Linked DNA regions of Homo sapiens. The protein of the gene in region 2 purifies or fractionates together with the protein of the main gene of each other region. This does not show direct contact. Each region holds a gene or a part of one and is shown on either strand. Other genes may lie near its edges.

The links. Proteins that work in one complex are often made in the same cells at the same time.
Region 1: the proteins of HADHB (region 2) and ATP1A1 fractionate together in Homo sapiens (co-fractionation; 3 studies listed by BioGRID, with this or other methods). This does not show direct contact.
Region 3: the proteins of HADHB (region 2) and GPC1 purify together in Homo sapiens (co-immunoprecipitation; 4 studies listed by BioGRID and IntAct, with this or other methods). This does not show direct contact.

What each region holds. Positions count from the first base shown.
Region 1 is NC_000001.11:116,376,230-116,383,254, forward strand, and holds part of ATP1A1 (sodium/potassium-transporting ATPase subunit alpha-1), read left to right. Parts: intron 1-7,025. UniProt on the Homo sapiens protein: This is the catalytic component of the active enzyme, which catalyzes the hydrolysis of ATP coupled with the exchange of sodium and potassium ions across the plasma membrane.
Region 2 is NC_000002.12:26,275,914-26,282,938, forward strand, and holds part of HADHB (trifunctional enzyme subunit beta, mitochondrial isoform 1 precursor), read left to right. Parts: intron 1-1,159; coding exon 1,160-1,247; intron 1,248-2,700; coding exon 2,701-2,888; intron 2,889-3,221; coding exon 3,222-3,402; intron 3,403-4,080; coding exon 4,081-4,202; intron 4,203-6,931; coding exon 6,932-7,011; intron 7,012-7,025. UniProt on the Homo sapiens protein: Mitochondrial trifunctional enzyme catalyzes the last three of the four reactions of the mitochondrial beta-oxidation pathway.
Region 3 is NC_000002.12:240,438,649-240,445,673, reverse strand, and holds part of GPC1 (glypican-1 precursor), read right to left. Parts: intron 1-7,025. UniProt on the Homo sapiens protein: Cell surface proteoglycan that bears heparan sulfate. Binds, via the heparan sulfate side chains, alpha-4 (V) collagen and participates in Schwann cell myelination.

The sequences.
Region 1 (7,025 bases), on a different chromosome or scaffold from region 2:
TTATGAGTAGTGATTTAAGGAAGGGCAGGGAAAAAAGGTTCCAGTGAAGGTGGCAGGGGGGATGCACATGTCAGCAGAAATCCTGGTTGTATGGTAATGTTATCAGCTGCCCTTTTGGAGCTCAGCTTGAAAGTGTGACTAAAGCTCCTCTGGCTGCTATAAAGCTAGTACTTTAGACTTAAAGCATTGTAAGGCAGATGCCTCAGAGTGGAAAGTTGCCCGGGCCTGGCCGGGAGCTAGTGGAGCAAGTTACAGGAAGAACTAGTGCCTAGAGCTGGGGGGTGGAGAGAGCACTTGTGCCTCACCCTTTGCCTGTCAGTTGTTCAGCGTGTAACAGTTCCCTGCTTCTTAGGTTCTTTCTGTACCCTTTTATAAGGGTGTATCCCCTTTTGGTAACTTACTGTTTGTTAATTTGTAGTGTTCCCTGCCAGTAAGCTTGTAACACTCTAGTGACTCACCTTCGGGTGGGAGGGTAGGAAAGGGAGAGGCCTGCCTCCTAAACCTGGGAAGATGGGGAGAGAGTGGTAAACCTGAGAGCCCAAAAAACAAACCAAAACAAAAAAACAAAAAAAAAGATGCCTTTAAAAATTCAGTTAGATGTTTGCCCAGATGAGGGCTAACACTTAAAATATACAGATTCCTGGGAATGTTATTCCTAAATTGCATTCAAAAATAAAAGTGAACTCAACATCTTATAGCACAATAGGCTTGGCACTCATCCATGCTCCATGCCAGTACCCTCAGTCATTGTTTTCGGATTATTTTAGCAACAAATGAACAGATAAGTGACTTTCCATTCAAATCAGGCTATGTTCTTTTAAATATATCTAAACTTAAGAATAAGAAAGGCTTTAACTAAAATAGCTTTGAAGGATTTTGTATGGTAAAGTAAAATTGGTTTCTTCACTTAAAAACAAACAGGTTTAAAAGTAAAATAAAATAAAAGCCCTGAAGCTTCAGTTTCTCATCTGGCTTTTGGATAGAATGCTCATCCTGGGGATCAAGTGAAGTAATCTATGTTCTGTTTATGGAAGGAGTGCTGTGCCAGCCTGAGTTGTGGCTATTGTTATTGGGCTTACATAGGTACAGTAATTAGAGCCAAGAGAAGATCAAATCTTTACAGACTGGGTTTGTTGTTCGTCAGTAAGTCATTAGCCCTTGCAAAATTAGAGAGCAGTTTTTCTTTCACCATGAGAACATATTAAGGTTTGAAAATAATGGGAAATACTGTTAATTGCCCTTCATAGGAAAGTCAAGTAGAGGTGTCAATTGACATTATTGCAACTGTTATCTTCGCTCAACAAGCAAATCTCCTGTTTAATAGCATCTTTCTGTCTACTTTCACTTCTCAGGTGAAGGACTTTGTTCGCGGTTGATGATCATTTTTACGTTTTTGAAGTCTTGCAAAATAAAATGGGCTTTTCGGCCTTCTGTGATGAGAGGGAGCCTGAACATTTGTGCTGTGCTGACTTCTTCTAGCTGCCGAGGGCTCTCTGCCAGCCAACAGGCTAGAAGAAGAAACCCGAGTGTCAGATCAGATGGGCTCACAGTAATCAGAGTGGCTGGGTTTGGACGGCAAAGCACCAGGCAAAATGTTTCCCATCCCTGCCAGAGCTGTCCAATTCTAGATTACACTGAAAGTACATGTCCAGTACATGATAATGTGCAGTAGAGAGAACTGTAAAACCTACTCACTCATTTTAAAACTCTCCATTTATATATTTTGGGGGAGGGATGTGGAACCTAGTCAGGTCTGAACTTTCTCACGTTGCTATGAATTGAGTGTATGAGAGGAAGTGTGTATTCTTTGGCTGGAGTCATAGAGAGACTGTTCTTAGCATATGACTCACCTCATTAGTTGTGCTGAAATCTGTTGTCAGGAATCCACAAGAAGTTCTTCATATTTATTTTGTGTTTCGGATAGCAGATTCTGTTACGAAAGAAGTACCCTTCACCCTACACTTTCTCTTTGGTTTGGTTTTTATTTGCATCCTGAGCAAAGGGATTTTTGATCAATAGACCTCATTCCTTTGTTCCTTTGTGACTTTACAGTGAATCTCTTTATCTGGTTTTAGACCTCACTTACTAGTTCCTTTGTGAGTTATGATGAAATATATCTGCACGTGATCTCTTTCCAGTTTTATTCAAACCCTATTTAGTAATGACTATTGGCTGTCTCAGTGATTTGATAAGTTGATTCATGATAGTTCGTGCTTTGTCCTTGGGACTTGTATTGTTTGGGAGCCTGATAATCAGTGTAAGATTTTGTGACTCAGTGGGCCTTGCTGTGTAGATCGGTGAGCTGTGATTGCTCTTTCTAGTCTGTTACCATGTAGGGGCAGGTCCCTAATGCACTTTGGGGTTATCCTCTTGTGTGTTTCTTTTATCTTCCACATGATGCTTCCATGGCACCATATTTGTTTTATTATTTCAATTCATGTGACATTTCTTTAGGGCCTTGGACAGCCTTTATCCTCTTCAGCCTGGCAGTCATTTTCCTTCCTAGCCTAGGCTTCAGGGTACTAATTGAGGAGTGATCAGGACTTACTGGGAGTTGATCTGGTCCTCTCATAACGCATATGCTGATTATTAATCAGTTGTCTCTAACCAGAGCAATCTGGTAAAATGAAAAAAAGGAGGGTAAGGTGGTCAGCAGAAAGGGGGAGTTAAGGAATAAGTAGAAAGTTTTAACCCTTCATAACCCATGCACCTAATGTAGAGGTAGAATTTTCCATTGAAGAAACTGAAGTTTTTGTCTGATTGTTCTTAATAACTGTAAAAGCAAAAATATATCTAAAGTGCACTGATTCTTTACACCTTTTAGAATTTTTATTTTTTGAATGATCATGGATGTACACTACTGCAGGTAGGGTAGGCTGTCAGGCTCATTAAGAATTGACATGCAGGCAGATTGGGGAGGAAGGTTAAGTCATGTTCTTTTGGGTTGAGGGAACCTGCTGGCTAGAACTGTCGCTGTTCTTTGACCCTTGCTGGCTGCTGGGCTGCCCAAGTTTGGATATACTAAACTGGGCTCACAAAGGGATCTACTGCTTTGGCCTTGGTAAATTATATTCTCCAGGATGCATATTTGGGTGGGCAAGAGAAGGAATATGAAGGCATGGTGGCCCCTCAGGCTCACCTCCTCTGCAGAGAACTGCTGCTCCTGCAGTGATGTGCTGCTGCTGGGGCTGGATAGCAGCCATGGTACTATGACAGTGTCCTCCCTCAACCCCGGCCATCCCTTAGCCCTCCAGTCCCTGGCTAGACAATTCCTTGCACATAAACTAAACTACTTAGTCATTTAGGAGCAAATGGAGATGTAATAAACTGGGCTAGATCATTTCTTGACTGTTATTTTCTTTAAGTTTTCACTGTTAAGATCAAATGAAAAATAATGCCAAAGGAGTTTTTTCTTCAAAGGTTTGAAAAGAATTTTCATAGAAAGCGAAAAATGGCAGTAATGTATATGTTAATTAAGACCAAGTTATAATAATAGCCTTTGTGTAGTGCTTTGAGAATACTTTTACATACACAATTGTGTTGGATGATTTAATAATGTATCGACCAGGAAAATGAGAAAGCACCCCTCCCCCTTACCTTTTACATTGAAGGTAGCCCAGACTTGGCAGCCTCTAGGGAACCAGCAAGGTCAGAGTCCATCACACAACTTTCCTGCTAAAGTGGTATTTGCCAAATCATGTCCAGAGGTGTTGTTTCTACAATCTTCTTGGCAACTCCGAAATGGGCTGCATTTGGGGCACTTCCTTTTGCCATCCTTCTGGCCCTTCTTGCCCGTCAAAAGCTTTTGTCTGTGGGCTTTGGAAATAGTCCAGTTTTTAAGGTGTTTTATTTTTCAGAGTTAATGGTTTCTTGACTAATCAGACTATGAAAATGCCTTCTCTAGGTTCTTTAATAGTTATACCAAGTGTTATTCCCATTTTAGGAATGAAGAAACTAAGGCTGACAGGCAAAGGTCATGTAGCCAGCATGTGGCAACACTAGAATAAATTGGCAGACTCAACACCATTAGCAGACCTGTCTGGAGGGAATGGTGGGTCTTGAACTTTCAAGTACCCTCTAAACTTTTTCAGCAGGAATTTCAGAAGTCTCAAGAATTCTGAGCTCCCTGCTGGCCATGGGACATTGTGCTGATATGGTGGGAAAAATGCAGGTTGAGAAAGCCTTCGCATCCTGCCCTGTTGGAGGCTGGTGTTTGGGATGGGTATGAAGGCCTTTGGCGGTGGCTATAGCTTATGCAGACCTGAAGCAATATACCTCTGGGATGGAAGATCCTGCTTATTTTGGGATAATTTCTAAATCTGTCATATCTATCCCCAACCCTGTCCCCATTAAATGGCTAATTGCCAAAAAAGAGGAAGCAACATCTTCAGCTCTAGCAAGTCTCGGGGATGTCTCACTCATTGTGAGGACTGTGAGGATTCGGTATATATTTTTAAGTGAGTGAACCTTGTTACATGTTTTAACCTTGGTTCCTCCTGTCAAGAATTTTATCTTCTCATGTCTTGGGCACCTTTTCCCTCTACCCAGATCAAATAGCAAAATGCTTAGTTAATCTTTGAGAGGATAGAATCCATGGGAAGCACAGGATGAAATGATGACGCTGTGCTAAGCTGTGTCACCGTGGGTAAGCCCCTGCCCTTGCTGTGACTTTCCACTTCCTAAATTAGAATGGAAGGGGGAAAAAAAAAAACCATAACCCAACTTCATTTTTATGAGTGGCCCTTTAGAAAATAGTGTAATCCGTTGAGTTTCCATTGTACCTTTCCTCAGAGATGCTCAAAGGGGCGGGGGTGCCCTTACATGGAACATGATGAGAGTGAGGATTAATCACTCCCAGTCCTCTGGGAGGGGGGAAGTGACCTGAACTTTCTAATTGAAAAAGTAGGAAGTGTGTGCCCAATGCCCAGATGAGTGGGAAGATTACTGTAGTTGATTGAGGAAATGCCGTATTTATCATTCACCCTTCCCATGACCTTTGTTTTTCCCTAATGCCTTAAAAAATAATAAGGAAACATTGTCCTACCTGATTCTACCACTGTTCATCTCACGCAGTGTGCACTCCCTGACTCTGAATTTTGCAGCTTTGAGACTGAGGTAATTGAGACTGATAGGGATTTAAGGATATTTGGTTCCCACAAGAATAAGCTAATATTAAGTTATTATTTTACTTGTGGAGAAGAACTAAATTGTATAAGCTGCCTGGTTCTTCTAGACACACATTGCCTAGTGAAAAAATTAAAATTTTGAAGAAAAAGCAGTTTTACTTGTTAATACTTGCCATGTGTCTCACCCACAAATAGCCTCATTTAAAACTTTGCCTTACCTAGCATGAATGGATAAAGAAAAAGGAGAGTTATTAGGGAATCTAAATTCCCAACTAACTTTAGCACTGATAGTGGTGAAGCTATGGGCAAGACATTTATTTTGTAAGTGGGGGTAAAACTTTGGAACGTGTTCAAAGCCTAGCTGCTCTAGTAATCCTCTCTCCTCTTCTGGAGTGGAAGATATTGGAAGTCTGAGAATAAGCAAAGCATGCAGATTATGAAGCTGAGGGGTTATAACTATTTCATTTATTGAAATATATTTCAATGATATTCAACTTGCTCAGAGAGAATCCGTGAGCTGTATTTTAAAAATCAATACAGGCTGGGCACGGTGGCTCACGCCTGTAATCCCAGCACTTTGGGAGGCCGAGGTGGGTGGATCATGAGGTAAGGAGTTCAAGACCAGCCTGGCCAAGATGGTGAAACCCCGTCTCTACTAAAAATACAAAAATTAGCCAGGCGTGGTGGCGAGCGCCTATAATCCCAGCTACTCAGGAGGCTGAAGCAGGGAATTGCTTGAACCCTTGGGCGGAGGTTGCAGTGAGCTTAGATTGCGCCACTGCACTCCAGCCTGGGCGACAGAGTGAGACTCCATCCCCAAAAAAAAGAAAATTAATACAAAGTGGTCACATAAATCTTTTAGAGATCCTTAGTCAATGTCTTTAAAATGTTTTTTAAGTGTTGTGCTTTCTCATTAAAGGTATGATATACCTTTAATTAAAGCTAAAGATATACCACTTTAGCTGTGGTTCCTTTCTGGTAGATGACCTGCCTTTTCCTTTTTGTTTTATTTGTCCACTTGTATGTGTTACTATTTTTCATTTAAACTCTGGCACCAAGAGCTGTACCGAAAGAGGCACCAACAAATGTGGTTGCTCCATAATGGAGAGAATGTCAAGAATGTTGACTATCTTTAGACCTGCTTCATTAATAGATAAGATAGAAACTAAAGAACCCACCCAGTTGGAAGAAGTTATTAGTCAAGTAGTGCTGCACACGTGACCACAGAAGTTAAAAAGGTAAATAATGTGTCTCTACATGTGGCCCACTCCAGTGAATTTGGAGAAGGATTTCTCCTTGGAGTCTTAAGAGGATATTTTTAAATTTAAGTGAACAATGTATTTTATTTGCAACTATTAGTTATGACTGAAACACACATAATACGTTTTGATTTTCTTTTTTCATTTCAGCACAGTGAAATTATAATCTGGACACGAGTTCCTAATTATTGCTTTAGTAGCTGGTAATGCACTTAGGAAAGTTAGAAATGAGTAAAGGAGAACCACAAAATAATAGTAATAGCACCATATGTCATGCATTTTAAGAAAATTGCTAATGTCTACTTTTTGGCCTTAAGTTGTAGTTGTGGGAGGCTGCTTCAGGGGGAGGTGTCTGGAACAAGGGGCTCTTCTGCTCCGCTAAGCTTTGGAGCACCAAGTTCAGGCTTTGTGTAGATAAGCTCAAGGATTTTTCAACAGGGGTGGGGGAGTGGAACAATCTAAATTTAAACTATAGAATCAACATTTTCTTTAAAAATTGTTCCAGTTTTCAAGAGGCGTAGGTGGATCCTGTGAATTATGTGATAATGCACACGCTTTTCCTACATCCTGCTTATGTCAAAACATTTCCAGAGACTTTCATTTTGGAGGTTTTATTTTCAGGCTACAGAATGGGCTGGGC
Region 2 (7,025 bases):
TTCTGAGGATAATTAATAGTTTCAGGGAAAGAATACTAAAAATGAATTCCCTATAATGGGATCCAGTATTTCATAGTAAATATTGTGTGGGTGTGTATGTGGGAGGAAATCTGGAAGCTTTATTTCTAAAGTAAAACTTTAATATTATAAAAATAAGTATTTTATAATTGCACCTGTGCATTAATTATTTACATAAACAAAAATGGAATCAGACGTTGATTGGTTTTTGACAGCATAATTTCCCCCAATAAATAGTATAATAAAATTATAGATGTGCTCATTTCATGTTTGACTTTCACTGTGCCATTATAATAGAGGCCATTTTTAAAAGATTAATAATGACCTCAGTTTTTCTTAAAGCCGCTCAGATGACAAATTATTCTCTTTGTATCACGTATTATGCCATCATCCTGGCCACTTGTTAGTTGGTCTGACCCTTATTTGTTCACAGACTCACTTGTAACTCAGGCAATTCTCCAGTTTCTTTCATTGAGTTGAGCTTCTGTATAGTTGGCAAGTTTTCCAGTTCATCTTTGCATTGGGTCTGCAGTGTGCTATCTGAAGTATCAGACGGTCAGTAAGAGAAACCAGCTGGCAGTGAGCAGAAAGATAGGTGTAAAGCAGACAGGGTCTTGAGTGGGAACTCTGTTTATGAAGGGTCAGTTCTTTAGAAATCATTTTCATGTTTAATCACTTTTGCTTTGCTGCTAAGCTTTGTGACTGATCATGAGACCTGATAACACAGATAGTGAGGACTCCACCCCATAATATATTTCATCATCATTCCAGCAACTGTCTTTAATAGGTTCTTTTAAGTATATTTGAACATTAAACAAGTTAAAATCAAATTATATATTGATATTCTTGAAGGCCCTGAGCAAAACATCGATAAGAAATTAGGTGAGTTAGGAGAGTATCATAGCCTCGTGTCTGCACTAGAAACCAGCCAGCAGGAATTTTGCATATACCTGTCAATTAATGGCAAGATTAAATATTAGTGAACCATTTCTGTGATGGACTTCATTTGATTTTAAATATTGCTCTGGAGAATGTTAAACTGAAACCGTTTCCAGATGACTATGAAGATTAGTGCTCAAAGCATCATTTACATGATGCCCTTCCCTTATAGTGATCATTTCATTCACTCTATTTCCTAAAGGCTGCCCTTGGAGCTGGCTTCTCTGACAAGACTCCTGCTCACACTGTCACCATGGCTTGTATCTCTGCCAACCAAGCCATGACCACAGGTATGTTTAAATGGAAACAGACAGTACATGTTAATTATTCTCCTTTGTCTTTTACTTGATTATAAAAATGTACTTTTTTTTTTTTTTTTTTTTTTAACACAGAACCTCACTCTGTCACTCAGGCTGGAGTGCAGTGGTACCATCATAGCTCACTGCAGGCTCAAACTCTTGAGCTCAAGAGATCATCCTGCCTTAGGATCCCAAGTAGCTGGGTCTACAGGTGCTCCACCACACCCAGCTAATTTTTAAATTTTTTGTGGAGACGGGATCTCGCCATGTTGCCCAGGCTGGTCTTAAACCTCTGGCCTCAAGTGATCCTTCTACCTCAGCCTCCAAAGTGCTGGGATTACAGGCGTGAGCCACCATGCTCATCCCAAAAAGTACTCTTAACAGAAGTAAAAGATTAGCACAGATCTCTATACTTGTGTTTTTTAAAAAGTAAGGTCAGGTTTAAAATTTGGGGGTTCTAACCGTAGTTAACCTCTTTTTTTGCTCTCCATACCTGAGGAACATTACCATTGGCGTGGTTCCTCTGTGAATAATGTGGCTGGCTGCAGCAGGGATTATCAACTGGAGGAGTGTATCTCTAGGAAGGTACTTCAGCATCTGAGGCATGAGTAAATAGTTTACAACCTGCCAGGCTTTCAACCTAGGTGCTTCAGATATGATATTTTCCCACAAAGATATGGTCTTCCTTCCTTCACCACTACCATACTTGTAAATCATTGCTTTAGATGGCACAGCTCTTTCCTTCACTTTCTCCTTACATCCTTGTCATTTTTATAAATCACTGAAAACCCCACTAACAAACTTTAGCAAAACTGTGGGATATTTTGTAGCATCAGCTCTTAGTGTGAGGAGGCAAGGAAGCCTGAAAGATTTAGTAATCATGTGCTCATCTAGTAACATCAAGGCCCAGGTGGGCACCCCACCTCATGTGTGGCGGGGAATGATGCCCGTGACTGGGGGCGTTCGCCACTCTAGGCAGCATGTGACCAACTCCTGGTTAGAGAAACAGAATACTGGCCAGTGGCCATAAGGAGAGAGGGGGCCTGCCTTACGTTTCAACAGCTGTAATTTCTCTGCTTTGCAGCAGAAGTTAACATTCTCTTTATAGGATAAAAAATCTTTATTAAAACTAAAGCTGGGAGCATATAAATATGCAAGATGTTCTGGTTTGGAATATGATTTGTTCAAGAGTTGGTCCAATGGATATTCCTAGAAGTTGACGTCCATATGGCAGGAATGAAACTTGTTTTTCTCTAACGTGTTGAATGTGTTTTTAGTCATTTAAGAAAATTACCTTAATTCTTCTGAAAAGTTGAAAACTTTAATTACAGATGTTGTACAAAGCTGATAACTGTCATTCAGCTTTTTAATCAAGAAGCTTAAATTGGAATGGTATGTTATTTTCTGTAAAAGATATTCATGAAGTATAACCTGTGCCCTGTAGGTGTTGGCTTGATTGCTTCTGGCCAGTGTGATGTGATCGTGGCAGGTGGTGTTGAGTTGATGTCCGATGTCCCTATTCGTCACTCAAGGAAAATGAGAAAACTGATGCTTGATCTCAATAAGGCCAAATCTATGGGCCAGCGACTGTCTTTAATCTCTAAATTCCGATTTAATTTCCTAGCACCTGAGGTAAGGCTTGTGTTTGCAGGGCATCCCACTGCAGAGATTTAGAATTAGGTATGGCAGTGTGGACTCTGCTATGCTGTAATAGGTGTAGATTCTGTAGTTACAGGAAAGGGTTAATTACTTGCTCAAGATGGAAAAAAAAGATAGTGGTTAGAAAACTTTAATTTGTGAGCCCTCTTTAGAGATCCTCTTTAGAGATCCTCTGCTTGTCTTGGACTTGATTGATTAATGGTAGACAAATAGATTTTAACTTTTCCAAATAACACAGAACAATCCTAGGTGTTAGCATAACACCGGTTAACAGTGTACCTGCTCCTTGGATATCTCCTTTCCCAGCTCCCTGCGGTTTCTGAGTTCTCCACCAGTGAGACCATGGGCCACTCTGCAGACCGACTGGCCGCTGCCTTTGCTGTTTCTCGGCTGGAACAGGATGAATATGCACTGCGCTCTCACAGTCTAGCCAAGAAGGCACAGGATGAAGGACTCCTTTCTGATGTGGTACCCTTCAAAGTACCAGGTGAAATGAAATGCTTCATGACACTTATTAGGGAGTTCTGAATTGCTCCTAAAACTCAAAAACATCCCGAGTGATTTTTCCATAAGTATGTTGGTTCTGTTTCCAAAGTATTCAGCCTTTATTCTTAAATATGGATGCAAATTTTGATTTATGTTGTAACAATAGGTTAACATTTTTTAATGTTTCTATAAGAGTGTCCTTTTAAGATCTGAGCACTAATCTCAGCACTTTGGGAGGCTGAGGCAGGAGGATCGCTTGAGGCCAGGAGTTCAAGACCAGCCTGGTCAACAGCGTGAGACTTCATCTCTAATTAAAAAAAAAAAAAAGAAAAACAGAGTCTCCTTTTAGATCTTGCTGATATATTTTAGTTCTTACATACATGCCTGTTTTTAAAATTCCTGAATCGTCTGACTTCTGTATAGAATAGCCAACTGTGAATGAATGTCTTAAGAAAATAGGGTGTCCTATTTTTAGTAAAGCATTTAGATGATTTCCCAATTGTCTTTTAAGACTTTAGTTTAAAATTTGATAATATGATAATTATAAAACACTTTCCTTCTAGTGAATAGGTAAGGTTTATATTTCATTTGTTTTTGTAATTTTTAAAGCATATTTCTGTGGAGAAGATATATAAGGCTTGTGGTTCCATAGAGTTAAAAAAATTCATTTTTTTAATAGGAAAAGATACAGTTACCAAAGATAATGGCATCCGTCCTTCCTCACTGGAGCAGATGGCCAAACTAAAACCTGCATTCATCAAGCCCTACGGCACAGTGACAGCTGCAAATTCTTCTTTCTTGGTAACTGTCAATGTTATTTGTATTTAGTAGTGACTTTTCTATTTCTGTACTCTCTGTAGAAAAGCCTAATATAACTTTTTGTGTGTGTTATGAATAGAGGGTTAAAAATATAGTTATTCATTTTAATGTGAAAGTGGAGTCATTAAAAAAAAAATAGAATCACGGTTTTAAGGCCCGAGAAGTCACCTAATCCAGCCACCATTCTGCCACAAAAGCTCTTCCTTTCAGGCACTTAACCAGTCAAAAACTTCTATTGCTTATGGTGGGCCCTGGAAATGAAAAGAATAGACAATTGCAATATAGTGAGATGCTGTGATGGCTGTAAGGCTTAGGTCGAACCCCTGACCCAGATGGGGGGACAGTCAGAGAGTCTTCTTGGAAGAGGTAACACTTGAGCAGCAAATCTTGAAGGAAGAGTAAAAGCCAACTCAGGAAGGATTTTAAAAGGCATTTCAGGCCGGGTGCGGTGGCTCACGCCTGTAATCCCAGCACTTTGGGAGGTTGAGGCAGGCAGATCACCTGAGGTCAGGAGTTCGAGACCAGCCTGAGCAACATGGAGAAACCCCGTCTCTACTAAAAATACAAAATTAGCCAGATGTGGTGGCACATGCCTGTTAATCCCGGCTACTCGGGAGGCTGAGGCAAGAGAATTGCTTGAACCCTGGAGGCGTGGAGGTTGCGGTGAGCCAAGATCGCACCATTGCACTCCAGCCTGCACAAGAGCGAAACTCCCATCTCAAAAAAAAAAAAAAAAAAAAAAAAAAAAGGCATTTTGGACAAAGGGAATAGCAAATGCAAAATCAAGGAAGTATGAGAGCAAGGGGTTCTTTGGGGAAAAGTTAGGTTGGAGCATAAGGTATGAACTGGGAAGTCGCAGAAGACAAGGAAAAGCAGGCAGAAAGAGTAACAGGATACCTCTTCCAGCCCTGATTGTTAGAAAACTGCTTTACACTGACCCCAATATTATTTTCCTGTAAGCATCATGGAACAAATCTACCACTGTTTGTTTTGTGTTTTTTTTTTAACTTATCAACATGTAGCTTCATATCCTTCCATGCTTTTCTGACTCCTCAATTAAACATCTTTATTGATTCTGCTGCTGCTTGTAAGATGTGATTTCTCTTCTCTTACCACCTTGGGTATAGTCTTCTGGATATAGGCCATCTGGTCAGAGTTTCTCTTACAATGTAACTCTCCTACCTGGCCATAAAGTCTTGAAAACATACGCAGATGTTTGACATATTTGCCCATGGTAAATGACTAATTAATGCCTGCTCTTGATAGGCTAGGGGAGTGGAATCTGGAGTAGTTCCAACAGGATGGAACACCACCCTGTTAAGCCCAGGTGGTGAAGAGCTGGTTAGGTTGGTCATTTGCAAAACCGAATTGGATGATAGAGCCATGTGGCATGGACTACACTTGCCAGATCTGAATCCTTTTGATTATTTCCAGGGTATGCTAAAGGTCCAGGTTTATTTAGTGAGAATCAGAGACACAAATCATCAGAGGTGACACATCACAATACATGGATTTTGGGGACTGCATTAGTGCCCCACATTCATTGCAATTTTGCACAATGGCACATTGAACCTGTTATTAATGTAATGTCTGTAAACCATTTATTCCATATGGTCACCTATGTCTCCAGACTTTATGGACACCCTATTGGTGGCTACACAGTCTCTTCAGGGTTGCCGAGTTATAAAAATACGACAGAATGTGGTAGAACTTATTTTGATTTTACAAATTATGAAGAATAGTTTCCTTTTCTTTGGAATTCTGAAGTTTTTGGGGGAGCTTTTCTTCTTTGAAGTATGGTAAAGGACGTTTTTTCAGTAGTACTTCTTTGTCCTCCAGCTTCTCGGTTGTCATTTGGGAAGAAATGTATGGGGTGTATCCAAAGAGGGAAGATTGTGGTTCTAATGTCCTCAGCTGGTTCTCCCATTGGTTTGCTCGTTACAGAATATATAAGTAGAATAAAATGACCTGTAAGCCACGGGCAGAAAGCAGCTGAGAGCCCAGAAAATGTAAAAATAAATAAATAAGAGATATGTTTATTTTGGTTCATATTTTGTGCCACAAGCTAAAAACTTTGGCTTAAATAAGTGTTTAGTGTTTATTATGAGCAGTTCTTTCTTTTTTTTTTTTTTTTTTTTTGAGACAGAGTCTGGCTTTGTCACCCAGGCTGGAATGCAGTGGCACGATCTCAGCTCACTGCAACCTCCGCCTCCCAGGTTCAAGCAATTCTCCTGCCTCAGCCTCAGCCTCCCAAGTAGCTGGGACTACAGGTGTGTGCCACCACACCTGGCTAAGTTTTTCTATTTTTAGTAGAGATGGGGTTTCACCGCGTTAGCCAGGATGGTCTCAATCACCTGCCTCATGATCTGCCCGCCTCAGCCTCCCAAAGTGCTGGGATTACAGGCATACAGGCATGAGCCACCACGCTTGGCCATGAGCATTTATTTCTAAAGTTACCTCTTCTGTTGATTCATTTTGATTATTATGATACTTTTGAACAGCCTTCTCTACCCTCATCCTCCAAAAATGAGTCAGCGTGTGTATGTTTGAATTATGATTTAATGATGGATACAGTGAAGTAAGTGTTGTTATATAGAATCACTGTATAAGTCTAATGAGTTAATAGATTCAGGTACAGATATATAAGATGGCTGGAGAAAGACCTCCAGACAGGCTGAAGAATTTTAACATTGTGCTGGTTAACATTTCAGACTGATGGTGCATCTGCAATGTTAATCATGGCGGAGGAAAAGGCTCTGGCCATGGGTTATAAGCCGAAGGCATATTTGAGGTAAAGTAAATGTT
Region 3 (7,025 bases), about 210 Mb from region 2:
GCCAAGTTCATGAAGCCCATGAATTACATCCAGAACCTCATCCGTGCACCCACAGAAGGATGGATGCATCTAGAACAACCCTCCTGCATGCTGGTGTTTGGCCACCACAGTCTGCCCTTCCTCCCATCCCAGCACCTGGCGCTGAGTGGTGCCCCCTCCCCTGAGCTCCCTCTTCCCCTGGCGTGGTTCTGCCTATAGCTTCAGTTCAAGTATTTCTCTTGGGGGTGCTACTGGCGTTTGTGGAAGGGCACCTCCATCTTGCAGGATTACTGGGCTCCCTGGCCCCACCCACTAAACACCAGAGCACCCCCACTCCTCAATCACTGGGATGTCACAAGTGCCCAGGGCAACTGCTCCCGCTTGGGAGCCACCCTATCCCAGGGGACCTTCCCAGGTATCTGTCTGACCTGCAGCCACCCCTCACCCCAAATTGCCCACAGGATGAGGCCACGCACATAGAACAGGGAGGCACCTGTTCTAACACCTACCATCCTGGGTGTGAGGCCACAGGAGGGAGACTGAAGATGCTGAGCAGTGTTCTGTGTACAGCCCCCCGCCAGGCTCGGGGAGGGGGCATCGCGTTCAGGAACAGTGGGGCTGGATTACGTGAGAGACTTGTCCTTTTAAAATACCTCCTTGGGTCCAGTGTGTCCCAAGCTCCATGACAACTGGAGATGCATGTAAACGCCTGAGCCAACCCTGGTGGCAGGTGGCATCAGCTTTGTCCCCAGGGCCTGGTAGATGGTCACAGGTGGGTGGGATGCTCTCCCTGCAGTCTCCAGAGCCAAGGATGGGCCTCCTGGCCCCGGTTCTTGAGGAGACACTTGGACGTCACACATGGGTTACCACAGGGATGGGATCAGACAGCCACAGGGAGCCCCAGTCACCAAGGATGCGCCAGACACGGGTGGGCTGCGGGGTCCACAGTGGGCACTGAGGCTGCACCAGATGCAGGGACAGGCTGAGACGATCACCCATAGGCCACAGCTCTGTGACGCACTGGACAGCTGTCGTCGGTGTTTGGGGAAATCGTCTGAAGGTGCGCACAGGCCACAGACTTCCCTACAGGTCCCACTGCTGATGGCGCACCCAGGAAGCACCCCTGCCGGGGAGGCTAGGGATCCGGTCGCTGCTGCATGGGCCTAAGGCTTGGCTGTTCCCAGGAGGGAGACGTGCTGTTCTGGGCCTCAGAGCATCGGGGTCACTGCAGCCAGATCCATCACCCCAGGATGGACCAGCGGGTGAGGACGGGGCTCAGGATGGACAGTGCCGCAGGGTCCTGGGCGGCTGGATTTGGGAGTCCCCGGAAGCCCCAGCCAAGTTTCTCAGTAGAACCTGAACTTCTGTGGGGCGAGAGCAGAAGCCTAGCAGCGTTGTACTTCCTGGCCCGCCCAGCTCACCCTTGTCCCTCAGGAGGAGCCAGGACAGCAGGCGGGCATGTGGTGCCCACTGTGGGGCTGGCTCTGACCTCAGGAGACCCACCGGGCGTGGCGGCTGGGCTGGGCTGAGGCTGGCCGGGCCCTCCTGCGGTGTGTGTCCTCACATGGCCCCGACACGGAGCTGCAAAGAAGCCGGGCCGTGTTCACAGCCTCCCCTCCTGTGCGCTCCCGGTGCCCCTCAGGCCTCTGGGTGCCTGCACCTGCGGGGTAGTCTGTGGCCTTGGCCCAGCTCCCCATCCTCTGACCCAGCCTCACCCCTGCTAGCCAGGCCCAGAGCAGGAGTGAGTCACTCGGCAAGCAAGTGTGGGGCTTGGCCCCAGGCGGCGAGGCCTCTCAGCTCTGAGCCCTGGGAACCCCTCTCTGGGACTCAGCTTTCCCATCTGCAAACTAAGTGGTATTCAGCCCACCCGGTAGACAGCCCCTGGTGCTGCCGACTCTGGGAACTCCTGGGGCACCTCAAAGGTGGGAGAGGACCAGGGGAGGGAGGGCCTGGGGAAAGAGGGACCCTTCTCTCCCTGTCCACCGGCTGCGCCCCATCAAAGACCTTGAGAGCCCACCAGGAGGCCTAGTTCACAGATGCCGCTGGGCCTCACCTCCCACTGCCCCGTGCTGGGCTCAGGGTTTCTGCTTCCGAGTCGCCTGGCCTCAGGGATGATTTGCAGTGGCTCTGTGGCTGGCCCTCCTCCCCACCACAGCCCTGGGAGGTCTCCTCCTCCTGAAGGAGCAGGACAGGTGGAGCCCCTGGGTGGCTGCCCTGTCACCCTGCCAAGCCTGCAGGACCCAAGGGGCACTCAGCACAAGAGAGCAGCGGGCCTCCTCGGCCAGCCACCGCCTCAGGAGACAGCAGTGGTGCAGCCTCCTGGCCCCCAGGCCTCCCTCATCTCTACATCTCCAAACCCTCGCCCTGCAGTCCCACTGCCTCCCCGCCCAAAGTCCACCTGAAGGGCTCTGCCCCCTGACAAGTGGGAGACTGGGGCCTGTCCAAGGCACACTCACACCACTGAACCACGACTCTCCCAGCCTGGGCTCCCGCAACGCAACCTGGAGAAGGTTTTCAGGCCAGCCTGGCCACTGCCCCCCACCCCAGTTCTGTGACGGCACAGGCGGCGGCATCCTCAGCCACTGCTGTACCACTAGACCTGGAACATCACCTGAGTGGCCCGGCCCTGCCACCCGGACCTGAGGGAAAAGCGGAGGCCCACGGCAGGAGGGGCTGGCCAAGGACCCAGTAGCTGTGCAGGGCCTGACGCTGAGGCCTCCCAGGCTTGTGGGGACCAGGCTGTGCCCAGAGAGCGCCTCAGGTGGACGGGGGTGAGTGGCAGGCTGGGGCGTGGTCACTCCCTCACACTGTCACCAGGGTCTCGGGCACATCTGTGCTGAGCTCTAAGCCCATTACAGAAACACGGCCCAGTGCTCAGGAGGCCACAATCACAAAACACCCAGAGCCTCGGGGTCTTTGCCACCTGATGGGAAGATGTAGGTGTGCCGGGCTGGGCTAGCTCCCCACTACAGGCTAAACTGTACCCCCAAAACCCACATGGCTGAGGCCTAACCCCGATTCCTCAGGATGTGACTTTGGGTGTGGAGTCTGTGTGACACCTCTCGTTAAGAAGAGATGGTACCGGTGGGCCCTGACCCAATTAGAGTTGTGTCCTTGTGAAGAGGGGGAATTCGGAGACAGAAGCGCACACGGGGAGAGCGGCCTGTGGAGGCCAAGGTGGGATTTACCAGCCAAGGAACACCTGGAAGCTGGCAGTGTGGAGCAGACTTCCTCACGCCTCAGAAGGGGCCAGCCTGGTGGACGCACACTTGATCTCAGGCTTCCAGGCTCTAGAACCACGGACGACCCATGTCTGCAGCTGCAGCTGCTCAGCCTGTGGCACTGTTCCGACAGCCCTGGAAACACTTGTGCTCCCAACCCCGGCACCCAGCCCCACCCGGTACCGGGAGGGACTCGGGGCCTTCCCCACCCTGTGTGGAGCTCAGGCCTGCCCAGGCGGGGGCCCCGGCAACAGGGAGGGTACGTGTTGGCCGATGCCCGGGAAGTCAAGCTGTGGGGAAAGGCCGGAGGAGGCGGGTGCTGTGGGTGGGCACAGGGAGGACACCGTGGAGGGAGGGGACAGGTGTGCCAGAAAGGTGGGTCAGCAGGAGCTGGCGGGAGATGGAGCTGAGGCCACAGGCAGGAGAGGGGATGGTGTGAGGCTGGCCTGGCCCTCTCAGGGGCTCCTAAACCCACCCGGATTCCAGACTGCTACCGAGCCTGGGGCAGTGGGGTATGCCCCTCACACCTGTACTTCCCCGCCACCCACGGCGGGCCAAGGGCAGCCAAGGAGGCTGCAGCTCTGGGCCCTGCTCCTCAGCATAGCCCTCACCCAACACCTGGCTGCTGCGTGCTCCCGCCTGGGTGTGGGGCCTGGAGGTGGAGGGAGAACCGCCCGCTTCCCTGGCCCAAGCCTCAACACCCTACACTGCACCCCCCACCCCGTCAGGAGACTTCAAGCGGCTCAGGGCACCTGCCCAGGCCTGTTCCCAGACAAAGAAAAGCCACCACAGGCACGGCAGCGAGGAGCCCAGGCTCCGGGCAGGCGGCTCCTGTCTGGAGCCCCCACGTAAAGTGGGCAAGATCCCGGGCCCCACAGGGCTGTGCTGGCGACTGGCAAGATCCAGGCCGGCTCAGGGCTCTGGGCACGTCGACACTGGACAGGGCCAGGGCTGGGCAGAGGCCCCGCATGTAGGAGTGCCCACCCCAGCCTCCACCACGGGTCCAGTCTTGATCTGAAATAACTGAGCCAGGCCCTGTGAGGACGGTCTGGCTTAAGAAAAGGCGTCCAGCCTCTCACTGGCCCGGGCACGGCAGATGTGGGGCCCCAGGCCAGACCTGACCAGTGTGGCTTCGGGTGAGCCCCTCCCCTGGCTCGTCTCCTGTCTAGTGCCAGCCCATGGCTGACACCTGTGCCATGCACATGGATGCCATAGAACAGACATGGGCATGCTCAGACACCCACTAAGCTCTCCTCCGAGGTCTGATGTGCAGCCCTGCGGTTCGGCCACCAGGTAGGTATGCCCCCCGTCCTGCTGTAGGGAGGCGTCCTCGGTACCTGGGAAGGCGCGTTAACCACAGGCTCACACTGTCCCTAGAGATTGCTGGTGTGAAGGTACAAGCCCCAACAGACTGGACTGCCTTATCTCCCTGGCTTGGCACCTGTGGGCACCTGAATAGGGTACCTGTCCACTAATCCTGGGGCACTTGGCCCAGTGTGGGTGGCTGGTCTGCCCTGTTGGGGACATGCAGGGCTTCGTGGCACACGCTGGGAACAGCCCTCCTAGCAGTCCTGCCCCCCACAGGCAGTGGAGCCAGGCCGGAGGGTGAGGCCCAGCTGTGTGGAAGTACGACTCTCTGGGCGGCACGGCCAGGAGGAGCTGGGCAAGACCGGAGGCAGGGAGGCCAGGAGGAGCTGGGCAGGACCGGAGGCAGGGAGGCCAGGAGGAGCTGGGCAGGACCGGAGGCAGGGAGGCCAGGAGGAGCTGGGCAGGACCGGAGGCAGGGAGGCCAGGAGGAGCTGGGCAGGACCGGAGGCAGGGAGGCCAGGAGGAGCTGGGCAGGACCGGAGGCAGGGAGGCCAGGAGGAGCTGGGCAGGACCGGAGGCAGGGAGGCCAGGAGGAGCTGGGCAGGACCGGAGGCAGGGAGGCCAGGAGGAGTCCCGGTTAAACGTTCTAAATGAGCCTAAGAGATGGAGCCCAGGCCCAGGACAGGAGAGCGGGCTGGGAAAAGCACGAGCCTTCCAAGAAGTGCAGAGCCTGGGACAAGCAGCCTGGCCTGGCTTTACTGGGCAGTGGTCAATGCTGTAGCCAGATCTGGCCCTAAGAGGAGCGCTTCACCAGGCTTCGGTTTACTCATTTGTAAAACAGGTCTACAAAGACCCCTTCCGTCTGATGTGTTAACCAGACAGTCATGGGAAACGCTCCACAAGCCGGGTTTCCCCGTGTTCTAAGAGCACCCGGGTTCATGAGTGCTCTTAGGGTACCGGATGCCATTAACTGAGAGGGGTGTGTGTGGGCCTTTGCAGAGGGTGTCCGGGGAGAGGGGGGACACAGCCCGAGGCTGCCCACGAGGTGCACAGCCCCAGCACCTTCTCCCTCCTGGCCACCTTCACAGGAGGTCACGATTATTCCCTTTCTCTCCTGTGAAAAGGCCCGGGGACACCGGGGATGGGATGGGGGTGGGGGCATCTGTGCCTGAGGAGTGCTGTGGCCTGCCTGGCATGGGAGGCTTGGCGGTCCAGCAGGGACCCAGGCCATTGCATCACGCAGGTGGCCCTGTCGGATCAGGGCTCCCCTGGGCTCCGCTCGGTCCTCACGCTGGGGATGATGAGCTCCTCTCATGGAGGGAAGAGCAGCGACACAGCAAAGGCTGAGGACCACCTGGGAACCACGCTGAGCCACCTGGACAGGACAGGGCACAGGGAACTGTCTGGTCTGGTGAGGGGCTGTGTGCCAGGCAGCCTCCGAGAGGCCCGCTGAGCAGGACTGAGAAGCAGATGCTGGTGGGCTCTCCCGGGCCCAGCCGGAAACACCCTTTCAGGGATGTGGGAAGGAGAGGTCCAGGCCCTCTGAGGATGGTTCCCCAGAGTCTGTGTGCCAACCACCCAGGCGGTCAAAAGTGGCACAGAGAAGAAAAGATTCCTTCGGAGGGGCCCAACGAGTGGGTGCTTGGTACAGGCTCCAGGGCACGCTGGTGCCCGCTCCAGCTGGTAGGCGGGCTGCCACTCTGGGCACAGGAGCGGCTGGGCAGTTTCTGTGCCACCGACAGTCCCATGCCCCACTCTGACTTCTGCCCCCAAAACTAGACCTTAGGGCCCCTCCTCTGCCTCAGGCTGGGAGACCCTGAGAACAGGGGTGTCTGCTCCAAGGAGACCCTCCTCTACCCTCCATGTCCCGCTCCCCACCCAGCACAGCCAGGTATAAAGCCAGGAAGGCCTGGGGGTGTCCTCCGAGAAGCTATCCTGGGCCGGGAGCCAGCCGGGTTCTGTGGCTACAACAGGGAAACAGTTAGAGGTGGTCCCAGCGACCAGGGAGCTCAGGTGCCAAGGTGGGGCGCTGAGACCCCAGCAAAGGAGCAAACAGACACACATCACATCACATCAGACATCAGGAGGCCAGACAGGTGCTCTGGGAACACCTATGCCCAGACACAACCTTGCAAGCAAAAGCAGGAGGCCTGCTGGCACGCGGGCAGTGATTCAGCATGAGGGCTCCTGGCAGCGCAGGGGCACCCGGGGTGCCACTCGGCTCCGCCCTTGCCTTCTGTGCCGTGCCCTGGCATAAAGGGAGGGTGGCCGGGTGCCCTGCTGCAGTGCCACCGTCCAGCTGGTGGCACCCAGGCCTGCTTCCTTGCCCATAAAATGGGATGACCACTGCTGTCACTGCAGCCTGGCCTGGCTGTCCAGAGGACAAAGGAAGTCTCAAAAGGGAGCCCAATATGTCCCGACACTGCCCTCTTTCATGAGCTAAGTCTCCTGTCACCCACTGCCTTTTCTGGTCCCTGGGGCAGAGGCTGGGAAGGCCCGCCACACACCCAGGGCCAA